Linked DNA regions of Homo sapiens. The protein of the gene in region 2 interacts with the protein of the main gene of each other region in a pairwise test. Each region holds a gene or a part of one and is shown on either strand. Other genes may lie near its edges.

Region 1 (3,753 bases), on a different chromosome or scaffold from region 2:
GTATCTCCTCCTGCAGGCATTTAAGCTTTGTAATTTAGTTACATGCATACTTATATTTATCTCTTTCCAACAATTTTGTTCATTTCTGATATCTTCTATTGTCTTCCCTCCCAATTTCTGCCCTTTTCAGTTTTTACTATTATCTTGTGGTTTTAGGAAAAAGCAGATATAAATATGTGTTTAAGCAATGCTATGGTTTGAAGGTTTTTGTCCCCTTCAAAATTTTTGTTGATTCCTAATCCCCTATGCAACAGTATCAGGAGGTGTAACGTTTAGAAGGTGATTCAGGAGGACTCCTCATGAATGGGATTTGATGCCCTTAGGGCTTGATGGAGGAAGTTTGACCCCCTCTTGCCCTTCCACCTTCTGCCATGTGAGGACACAGTGCTCAAGGCATCACTGTGGAAGCAGAGACAGGAACTTCACCAGACAACAAACCTGCTGGCACCTTGATCTTAGACTTCCCAGCCTCCAGAACTATGAGAAATCAATTTCTGTTCTTTGTAAATTACCCAGTCTGTGGCATTTTGTTATAATGACACAAACTAAGACAATCAATCAGAGTTATATTTCCTTGTAAGTATAAATTTTATTTTTTTATTTTTATTTTTATTTTTTTTAAGAAGGAGTCTCGCTCTGTCACCCAGGCTGGAGTGCAGTGATGGGATCTCGGCTCACTGCAAGCTCCGCCTCCCGGGTTCACACCATTCTCCTGCCTCAGCCTCCCAAGTGGCTGGGACTACAGGCACCCGCCACCACGCCCAGCTAATTTTTTGTATTTTTAGTAGAGAGGGGGTTTCACTGTGTTAGCCAGGATGGTCTCAATCTCCTGACCTCATGATCCACCCACCTCGGCCTCCCAAAGTACTGCAATTACAGGCATAAGCCACCACGCCCAGCCGTAAGTATAAATTTTAAAATCACTTCTTAATTAATATAATAGATGAAATGACCCACAGAAGTATCCACTCACAGAAAGGACCATTTCTAAAGGACCAGTTTGGCCTATAAAGAAAATACAATAGCAGACCTTCACAAATTTTCTAACATCAGAAAAGAAAAAATATTTAGATATTAAACTGAATCAAATGTGATGGTCTTACCCAGACAAAGGAAGACTCAGCACCCCATTTCCAAGTTAACTGGGAGCTTTTGTGTTGCTCTTTTTGCCCCCCTTATATTTGATTCTGCTACCTGACCTTTAAACAGAAAAGCTTTCTCTTCTTGCTATCTATGTTTGTTATTTAAAAGATCAAAATATTAAACTCTTGCTATATCTATTTGTCATTTGAAAGATCAAAATATTAAATGATTGTGAAACATTTTTTGCAACTGTAAGAGGGTTGATACTTTTCCTGAATATTATTCATTCAACATTCATTTATTTCTTTGACAAATATTTAAGAGATGCTCATGATGTCCTAGGCATTGAGCTAAGAACTCAATGTTGCAATGTGGATAAGATCCAGTCCCTGTGTGTTCATACTTATTTAATACTATTATAGACAAGGCCTTTAATACATACCATAGTCATATATCAATTTTTAATTAGCAATATGAAATAAGAGAACAATGGGACTTTCCACTCAATTTGACAGGTGGCTAAATTTTCAGTTACTGAATTTACTATTTTAGGGTAATCTAGCACATGACCAAAATTTAAATGCACAGAACAGAAGATCAGAGTAAGAAGAGCTTCCATTTGGATTATCACTTTTTCTACTTGGAGTCACATACTGTACTTTAAATTGATTAAGAACATGTTAAAGGTCCAGGTGGTGATTTCCAGCTACAAGTCCAAAGTATAGAAGAATGTGTTTAAATCCTACGTTTATCAGATCCATAAATATAGTTCCTTCTATGTTAAGTGGCTTTATTTCTAAGAACCCAGCCCTCGGTCCTGGGGGTGCTTCCCAGCCCGCTGCTGGAATTCCTGATCGTGGCAGTCTGCTGAAACATGAGCTCAGTTACCAAATATAGCTGAGTGGAGTAAGAGGACAGATGAGAGTCTGAGGCCACAGTTGCCTCAAAGTGACCACGGACCAGGCAGTCTCTAATGAATAGGCAAGGCCACAACCTCCATTCTCCCAGAAAAGAAGAAATGCTCATCTGAAATTCATCACCTCTCTGGAGTCTTCAAACTGACCAAGCATTGAAAAGGTCTGTAAGGTGTATCTTAATATACTAACTAGTAGGGCAACATTTTAAGGACTTAAAAAAAAAAAAACTAAAAATACAAAAGTTTTTCTGAAGATATGATACTATTTACAAGATACCTTAATTATTCTTTTGCTTGGAGAGGAAACGTAATGAGAATGTTACGGTTTTGCCAAAAACAGATAATACGTAAGATTTGCCTGCCCACTTCATCTCTGCCTTTGCTGTCAGAGAATTACACTTTCTGTTATAAGCTTAAGCATGCTAAGATGGTGCTATCAATTCCAAAAGGATTAAATGTATTTATGGAGCCAGCTTTTGTCAAGATCGTGTATGTGTTATGTTTCACAGAAAAGGAAAACGCAGCTTTCTAGACCCTCACCCATATTTAAGCTAGATAAGTGATGATGGCTTAAAGTGATAGACCTTAGATTTCAGTAACATTATAAATTGTTAATTACACTTTCAAAAGATTCTAAAAGTAACTCACTGGACATAATTAAATGAGTTGGGATAGTAACAGCAGGTATTTTAAATTATATTCATGCATAAAATTTACATACATATTTTTAATAAGATAACGCTTACTAAGGGAAACCACAGTGCAATCTCGAGTCCAGTCAAGTTTAAACATCACAGAATAATTTTTATCATGTTGTTTTAAGTTGCACATGAAATTGTCTTGAATCCAATATAGGAGGTTGACATAAAATGATTTCAGGCTCATATTACTTATTAACATTTGCTAAAAATACTAATTGCCTTCTAGTATGAATAATGTGGTGACATATAAAGCCATTTCTTGGCAATATAAAACTATTACAAATCTATTCAATCACATATATGCAGAAATTAAATCCTCATTTCATGATAAATGTGCCTTCCAATGTTTTTTCTCACAGAAAGAACTTGAATACTCACCTCAATTATTCAGATTTTTTTTTCAGATTTTTAAAATCAAAGTCTCTTTGACAAGTTATTGCTAACAGCAGAAAAGGCCGATGAGGTTTATCTGGCCACTAACTGCCCTGTAAATACATGATTACACATTCCTAGAATATAAATTAGTCCTCTGGCATCCTAGAATCTGGTATGGATTAGGGTCTGTATCCCAGGGGTTCTGTGTCAGCTCTTCCTCTGGGTTTCTCTGTTATTGCTAGAGCTGAATATTAAAACTGGCCTTATAGCATATTTCACAATAGAATGAGGATCTGGATTGCACTGGACAAGTACAATCACTTTGACCTCCTTACCTCATTTTTTAAAAATGTAGAGGGCAATCATTATTCAGGTTTAAAAATAAATATGACAAGTTCTTTAAGAGATACCAAGTGGAATCTGCAAGGCCCAGACAAGAGCTCCACTTCTTAAACAATATGTGTGTGGAGGCTGTCAAAGGGTATTGCAATTACTGAGCTCCAGTTAGAAATTCAGGCCATCTAGAGTTAATGACTGTGTCCCGGTGAAATTACAGCAAAGAAAACAAAGATTGAACAAAGTATCTTCGACTAAAATTTCTAACTGTTAAATCATATTAGAGAATATAGAAGCAAATTTGGTAAATAGGTTTTGAATTTAAGTGAGAAGAATAAAGCC
Region 2 (3,753 bases):
CAGAAGCCTTGGCCATGCCAGCACCTTTCCCAGATACTTTTTTATTTTTTCCATTATTTTGTTGGTAATAAGGAAAAGTCATTTTTTGCACAGAACAGACGGTATTTTCTTTGCTCCCCACAATGTTCAAGCATTTCGTGGCTTCCGGCCTGAGAACAGAGCCAAATCCTTCCCTTGTGCAGATGCCTCGTGAAGTTAGAAGCAGCCAGGGAAACCGAGTCTGTGCCTCAGTTTCCCCTGTGGGATGAACAGTCGCTCTTGTGCTGGGTCAGACTGGGGCTTCAGGATGGATGGGCCAGCCCTAGAGGAGCACCCAGACCTGGTCATGTAATAAACAGGTAACATAAGAGTCACAGAAAGGGTCTGGGCTCACACCTGTCATCCCAGCACTTTGGGAGGCCGAGGTGGGAGGATCACTTGAGCTTAGGAGTTTGAGACCAGCCTGGGCAACATAGTGAGACCTCGTCTCTAAAAATAAACTTTAAAAAAGAAAAAAAAAAGAGTCACAGGGATTGGGACAGGGGAGGGCAAGATCCCTTCCAAGGCCAGGGTAGTCAGAGAGGCTTCCTGGAGGAGGAGACAGGGTGGTGGCGCTGAGCCTGGAAGGACAAGGCAGAAGAGATGCCTGCAGCGAGGGCATTCCAGGTGGAAGGAACAGTTTGGGCAAAGGCCTGGATGGGGGAAGACTCAGATCTTGGCGCAGGAGTCAATCTCCAAAAACAACCTGACCTGGAATTCACCTAAAGGTAATTTGAATGTAATGTAACCGCCAGCTCAGATATACTATTCTTCTTAGAAGGAAACAGAAATAAAGGAACAGGGAAAGGAGACAGGAGCAGAGGTCTTGGAGATGAAAAGCAAAAGCCTCTCTGAAGTTGTCAAAACACTCAAGTGTCGGCCAGGTGTGGTGGCTCACGTCTGTAATCCCAGGACTTTGGGAAGCCGAGGGGGGCAGATCACTTGAGGTCAGGAGTTCGAGACCAGACTGGCCAACATGGTGAAACCCCATCTCTACTAAAAATACAAAAATCAGCCAGGTGTGGTGGCATGCACCTGTAGTCCCAACTACTCGGGAGGCTGAGGCAGGAGAATTGCTTGAATCTGGGAGGCAGAGGCTGCAGTAAGCCGAGATTGTGCCACTGCACTCCAGCCTGGGCAACAGAGTGAGACTTTGTCTCAAAAAAAAGAAAAGAAAAGAAAAGAAAAACTCAAATGTAAGATCAGAGCTTTAGGGCGCCACAGGCCTTGGTTCCAGGGAGCTGCAGGACCTCTGTCCACAAACGAACCAACGGCGCCGCACCGTGTGATTTTGGAGACGGTGCCAGAGAGGGGGCGGCACCAGGATTGACAAGTGGGACACATGGGCTTGGGGCTGGGGAGGTGGATCCTAGTTCAACTCCGGAAGGATGCTCTCCTGGCAAGTGTGGGAAGGGGGTGCTCCCTGTGACCAGAGGTGACAAACGCAGGCCAGTGGAGGCTGAGGGGATGCAACCATGCGTTGGAGACATTTCCTCAGCCTTTGGATTTTGGAACCCTCAAACAACAGCAAAGATAACCTTAATCCAACCATTGTGGGCATTTTTACCATCGTCTTGGGAGGGACAGAGGTGGACAGACGTCCCTGCTTAGGGATGGGACGGGCAGGGGAACAGAGGCTTCTCTCTCTTTGTCTTGCTTCCCGTTCCCTCCCGAAGTTGATCTCTTCCGTTTCCTGGCAACACCCATTGAGCACTTACTGTATGCAGACCCTGAGACCCACTGCCCCCTCCCCAACCTCACTGGGCCACCCATGTCAGCCCGGGAGGGACCTGACCTCCCTCACAGGCCCAAAGTTATGACCTCAGGTAGTGGGGACAGAGGCAGCTGTCTCCTGAGAAGGTGACAGGAGGGTGAGGTCACATCGCTGTCCGTGCAACTCTCTCCATCTGCTTCCTATCTCTCCGCCTGTCTCCCCCGTGTCTCTGTTTCTGGGTCTCTTTCTCATCCCAGATGTCCCTCTCCGTCTGTCTCTCTGTCCCCACCCTCTGCTCCCAACCCGACCCCACGCAACCCCCCCCCCCACTCCCCCTCCACCGCCCCTAACCCCCTCCCTCAATCCTCCGTCCCTTCCCCAGTCCCGGCCCCCGCCCCTCCCCCTTATCCCCTCCCCCATACCCTCTCCCAGTGCAAAAAGCCGGCAGGGGGCGCAGCGGGGCGGCCTTGGCGGCCCGGGGAGGCGGGGCGGGCGGCGGCCGCGTCGGGACCGGCCGCGATGGGACCGGAGGCGGCGCGGGCGGCGGCGGCGCAGACAAAGGCACGGGCGGCGTGGAGGGCGGCGCGGAGGGCGCGGGCCCGGGAGCCAGGGAGCGAGCGGGGCGCCCGGCAGCGCGGAGTCAGCGCCGCGGGGGCCGCACCCGACTCGCGCCTGGACACTCGCGGGGCGCCGACCTGGCAGGGTGAGCCCGGCCTGCCGAGCCTGCGCTGGGAGCGCGGGGGCCTCGAAGTCCCAGGGCCAAGGGGAGGGCGTGGGGGTTCCCCAGAAGTTTCGGACCCGGGACTGGGAGCGGCGCGAGGGGTCCCCAAGTTCCAGGGCTGGAGGGAGCGCGGGGGTCCCGAAGTTCTGGATTCAGGGTCTGAGAGGGGACTGCGTGGGAGGTTCCCAAAGTTCTGGACCCGGCGTTGGAGGAGGCTGCGAAGAGGTCCCCAAAGCTGCGGACCTGGGGTGGGGTACTGGGGTGGGAGGGGTCCGGACGTCCCGGACCCAGGGACTGGAGGGGTGGCAGGGGGTCCTCGAAGTTTAGGAGTCTAGGACAACGCGGAGGACCGGGGTCCCGGACCCAGTTAGAGGAGGAGTCACGAAGGGAGTCCCCGGAGTTACCGACCTGGGGTTGGAGGAGGCAGAAGAGGTGTCCCCCGAAGTTCTGGACCCAGAGACAGGGGGCGTCGCGGGAATCTCGGAAGTTCCAGGGTCAGAGCCCGCGTCCCGGAGTTGGGGCGTGCACTGGGTGTCCTGCCTCGGGTGGGGATGGGATCCTGAATTAATATTAACCCCCCCGTCCCCCGCACTCGGGTGCATGGGATGGGGCCTCATCCACCGGCCAGATTGGGGATCCCGGGCACCGGGCGGTGTCGGACCCCCCTCCGGGAGCCCCGTGGCCGGCGGCATCCGAGGCGCATGACTAGTTGGTGAGTAACTTTCCCCAAACGCTGCAAGTCGCAGCAGGAGCTGCCGGACCGGAAGGGCCTGGGTTCCGGGGACCCCTGTGTTCCCCAACTCCCACCCGGCGCAGGACCCGCCCCCAGTCCAGGCCAGAGCTGCCGCCCCACCCCCACTCAGGGGCTCCGGTTTCAGACCCTGTGACCAGGACAGCAGCTGCCCAGGACAGGATAGGGGGGGCATCCCCCCTTTGACCACAGAGGCCGCTGGGCCAGGGCCTCCCCTCCCCCACCTGTCTTCCCCCTCCTCCAAACTCCTCCTTGGTCCCCTGCAGATTCGGGGTTGCTGAATGGCCCAATGGGGAGGTTGGGGAGCCCTGGTCTCCCAGTGTGGATTCTGCTCTGCCCTCATGGTGGGCATTGGGATTGGCTGTTTGTCTACATCTTGTCTTTTTAACTTGGCTGGGGGCTCCCTGGGGATTTGGACTCTGGACTTCAAGGTGTGCTTCTGCCCTAGGGTGGGAGCTGCTGGGGGTGGGGTCCCTCTGCAGGGTGTAGTGGGGAACTGGTCTCCTGGTACTACACACCTCTCAACGCCCCATTTTTTGGTGGAGAGCC
Region 3 (3,753 bases), on a different chromosome or scaffold from region 2:
TCTTTCATTTTGTTTTTGTTGTTGTTGTTGAGAAGGGGTCTCACTCTGTAGCCCAAGCTGCAGTGCAGTGGTGCGATCTTGGCTTACTGCAAGCTTTGCCTCTGGGGCTCAGGTGATTCTCCTGCCTCAGCCTTCCAAGTAGCTGGGACTAGAGGTGTGCGCCACCATACTCGGTTAATTTTTTTGTATTTTTAGTAGAGACGGTTTCACCATGTTGCCCTGGGTGGTCTCGTATGCTTGAATTCAGGCGATCCACCTGCCTTGGCCTCCCAAAGTGCGGGGACTACAGACGTGAGCCACCGTGCCCGACCAGTAGTGACATGCAGTGATGAGGCCATATAATGTAATGCTCTATTAAAGGACTCCTTTTTTTAGTTAAGAAATCTAGCAATCTGATTTTTTATGTAGTTCACTGAGGAATCTCAAATTATTATTACCTTTGGTTCCATGATTATATTTTTGGGCATTACCTGATATATGAAAAAACTTTATATAAAAATAATGTTGTTTATGATATCAAAATTTTAGAAACAATGTCTAATAGAGAAGTGGACATAACCTTTTTTTTCTACATGTTTGTATTTTACATATTTTAGGTGAACATTACTCTTACAGTGGTAAGCAAGTAGTCAACTTGTATAAAAAAAGAGCAAATAATTTTTAGCAATCTTGAGTCACCAATAAACTAGAATTTTTTATGCAGTCTGTAAATAAATGATCATAATTTAATCATTTTTGATAGAACAGTTCAATAAGTAGTACATAACTGTTAGATCCCTAAAAATTGCTGTAGCCCAGCACTTGTTTTATATATTTTATATACATATTATATTTTATATTGCTTTATATTAGCAAGTTACGGAGAAGAGAAGTTGAGTTTTTCTAGCAGCAACCAGTATTTAGTTGTACTCAATTATTTTCATCCGTTTTTTTTTTTTTTGGTAGAACATGCCCTATTATATGGCAGTATAAATTAATCTGCTTTTATATTGTCTGGAAAAAAATCCTAGAGAGATTTGATTTGTATCTTATCACTGAAGATTCCATAGAATATATTGATTTAGGTTCATTTTTAAATTTTAGAAATGTAATACATAGATTGCCTTTTGTATATGAATAATTGATCTATCGTCTAACTTTTAATTCTGTGTTATTCAGTGTTTTGTTATTTAATAATAACTTTCCTTCTTCAAGGAGACAAAACAACTAGAGATTAAAAGTGGGGTATGGAAAAATAATACATTGGTATATTATAATTCATAATTAGGAGATAGCTTGAAAACCTAATGTTTCTGCATTATAGAGATTTGATATATGGAGGCTATGTTTTTTAATTGAGACAGGGCTTTTGATTCTTATCAAAACTGATTGTCTTACAATTTAGACAAATGTAATACGGAATTAATAATATCTTTAAATGTTTTCTTCAATTGTGCTTGGGTTTCTCATAAAATATTTTTTACAGGGGTTCAACAGAAATATTTGGTGGTTACCTGCAACTATGAAGCTAGGAAACTTGGAGTTAAGAAACTTATGAATGTCAGAGATGCAAAAGAAAAGTGTCCACAGTTGGTATTAGTTAATGGAGAAGACCTGACCCGCTACAGAGAAATGTCTTATAAGGTTACAGGTACAAATGATAAGCAATGTACTTTTAGCATTAATTTTTATGTAGGATGCCTGTTCATTACATGAATTTTTTAATAAATGTAAAATAACATAAGTCAAGATGCTTTTTCCTAATAACTTCTTATTTTGGGTCTTGTCAACTTTAAAAATTATGTGAAAGGATAACTGTATGCTATGAATAGTATTTTTAAGAAGATGTATAGTTGGAAGTAATTTTAACTCTTATTATTGATGTTTATATAACAGGGAAAAGTGGAAAACAAAGTTTAAAAGTGAGAAAATGGGAAACTGTACTGTAAAAGATGCCAGGTCTTTAAAATTTTAAGTTTAAATGAATTACGAAGAAATATGTTGTTTTCTAATGCACTAATGATAATTGAAAGAGGCTTCTGTAACATTTGATCAACATAATTAAAAACTGATTTCTTATGAAATATTAATAAAAATATTGGATATATTAATATTTTCTTAGGTTTTATATATATACTAAATATTACAATGTAGCTAAACTTTCCTATGCTAAGGTTTGGGTTTAAATCTTAGTGTTATAGTAAATTACAGGAAAAATGAAAATGAGTGTGCACTGGCACATTGCAAATATAGTAGGTTGATGCAAAAGTAATTGTGGCTTTCACAATTACTTTTAATTGCGAAAACCGCAATTACTTAATATATAGTGTAAAAATGTATAATGATCAGCTTTGCAATTATTTGTCTTTTTTACTTTTTTTGTTTTTCTTTTATGATAGCAATTTTCAGATGACTGGATTAAATGTCTATAATATACAAAGACCTCTTAGAAATTAACAGGAAAAATAAACCTAATAACAAAGGACAAAGGATATGAATAGGCAGTTGACAAGAAGAGCCTAACCCAGTGTCTAACAATTATAGGGAAAAAATGCTCAAATTCATTAGTGGCCAAGGAAATTTGAATTAGTAAGATATTTTATATCTGTCATACTTGCCCAAAATTAAAAGCAATGTGAGAAAAAAGTATCAAGAACACTTACTGAGTTTAAAGATGAATGTTCTTCAATCCAGTGATATCATTGCTGGGAGTTTATCAAATAGAAATAAAATCATAAGGCTGGGTATTGTGGCTCATACCTGTAATCCCAGCACTTTTGGAGCTGAGGTAGGAGGATTGCTTGAGCCTAGAAGCTCGAGGCTGTGAGCCGTGATTGTGTCATTGCATTGCAGCCTGAGTGCGCATGACAGAGTGAGACTCTTGTCTCTAAAAAAGAAAGAGAACCACAAGTACATAAAGACATATGTACAACAATGTTTATCATAGCATGGTTTATGATTGTCAAAAGTATGGAAGGAAAAATGCCCATCAAGAGAAATAGCCAAATAAACTAAAACATCTGTATAATGGATATTATATAGCCATTAAAAAGAATTCATTGGTGCAATACTATTTGACTGATGGAGATAGGGCTTGTTGAGTGAATAAAAGGCAAGGTACAAAGTCATGTATCATGTTTTTCCAAATGTGTAAAATTATGGCCTAAATGCCTCCTCTCATATTCATCATATAGATGAAGAAGAGTAAATCATTGTTTTGATTTGCAGTTTTCCATGAGTAAGGTTGAGTATTTTTTCATATATTTTTGGTCATTTATGTATTTTTTTCTGTTAACGTATTCACTTGCACCTGTTTTTAATTTGGGTTGTTCATCTTTTTCTAAGTACTAAGTACCTAGTACTTTTTGTGTTAGGTATTTTTTGAAAAAAGTTACTTTATCAATTTTTCTCACAGTATTTTTCTGAGTTGAAGTAGGCGCGTAGCCAGTTAGTCCTTTACTGTATTTATCTCTGATCTGTTTATAACCTTATTATTTATTTCATATTTTGATGCTACTGCATATATACCTTTCTTCAAGGTATTTTTTTTTTCTGTAATTACAGACTCCTCTTTTGGGCCCTATATAATTATATGTTTAATAAATGTATCTTGCTTATGAAGTTGATACCAAGAAAGAGGTTAACTTCAGGAATGGAGGCTGGGCATGGTGGCTTATGCCTGTAATCCCAACACTTTGGGAGGCTGTGGTGGGGTATCATTTGAGGTCAGTCTGGGCAATATAACATAGCAAGACCCTGTCTCTACAAAAGTTA

What was found.
Region 1: the proteins of HOMER3 (region 2) and PALLD interact in binary tests that used the Homo sapiens proteins (3 or more experiments, as listed by UniProt).
Region 3: the proteins of HOMER3 (region 2) and POLI interact in binary tests that used the Homo sapiens proteins (3 or more experiments, as listed by UniProt).

What each region holds. Positions count from the first base shown.
Region 1 is NC_000004.12:168,495,035-168,498,787, forward strand, and holds the start of PALLD (palladin), read left to right. Parts: upstream 1-2,017; 5' UTR 2,018-2,160; intron 2,161-3,753. UniProt on the Homo sapiens protein: Cytoskeletal protein required for organization of normal actin cytoskeleton. Roles in establishing cell morphology, motility, cell adhesion and cell-extracellular matrix interactions in a variety of cell types.
Region 2 is NC_000019.10:18,939,733-18,943,485, reverse strand, and holds the start of HOMER3 (homer protein homolog 3), read left to right. Parts: upstream 1-2,268; 5' UTR 2,269-2,435; intron 2,436-2,861; exon of another isoform or gene 2,862-3,635; intron 3,636-3,753. UniProt on the Homo sapiens protein: Postsynaptic density scaffolding protein. Binds and cross-links cytoplasmic regions of GRM1, GRM5, ITPR1, DNM3, RYR1, RYR2, SHANK1 and SHANK3.
Region 3 is NC_000018.10:54,272,461-54,276,213, forward strand, and holds part of POLI (DNA polymerase iota isoform a (long)), read left to right. Parts: intron 1-1,465; coding exon 1,466-1,630; intron 1,631-3,753. UniProt on the Homo sapiens protein: Error-prone DNA polymerase specifically involved in DNA repair. Plays an important role in translesion synthesis, where the normal high-fidelity DNA polymerases cannot proceed and DNA synthesis stalls. Favors Hoogsteen base-pairing in the active site.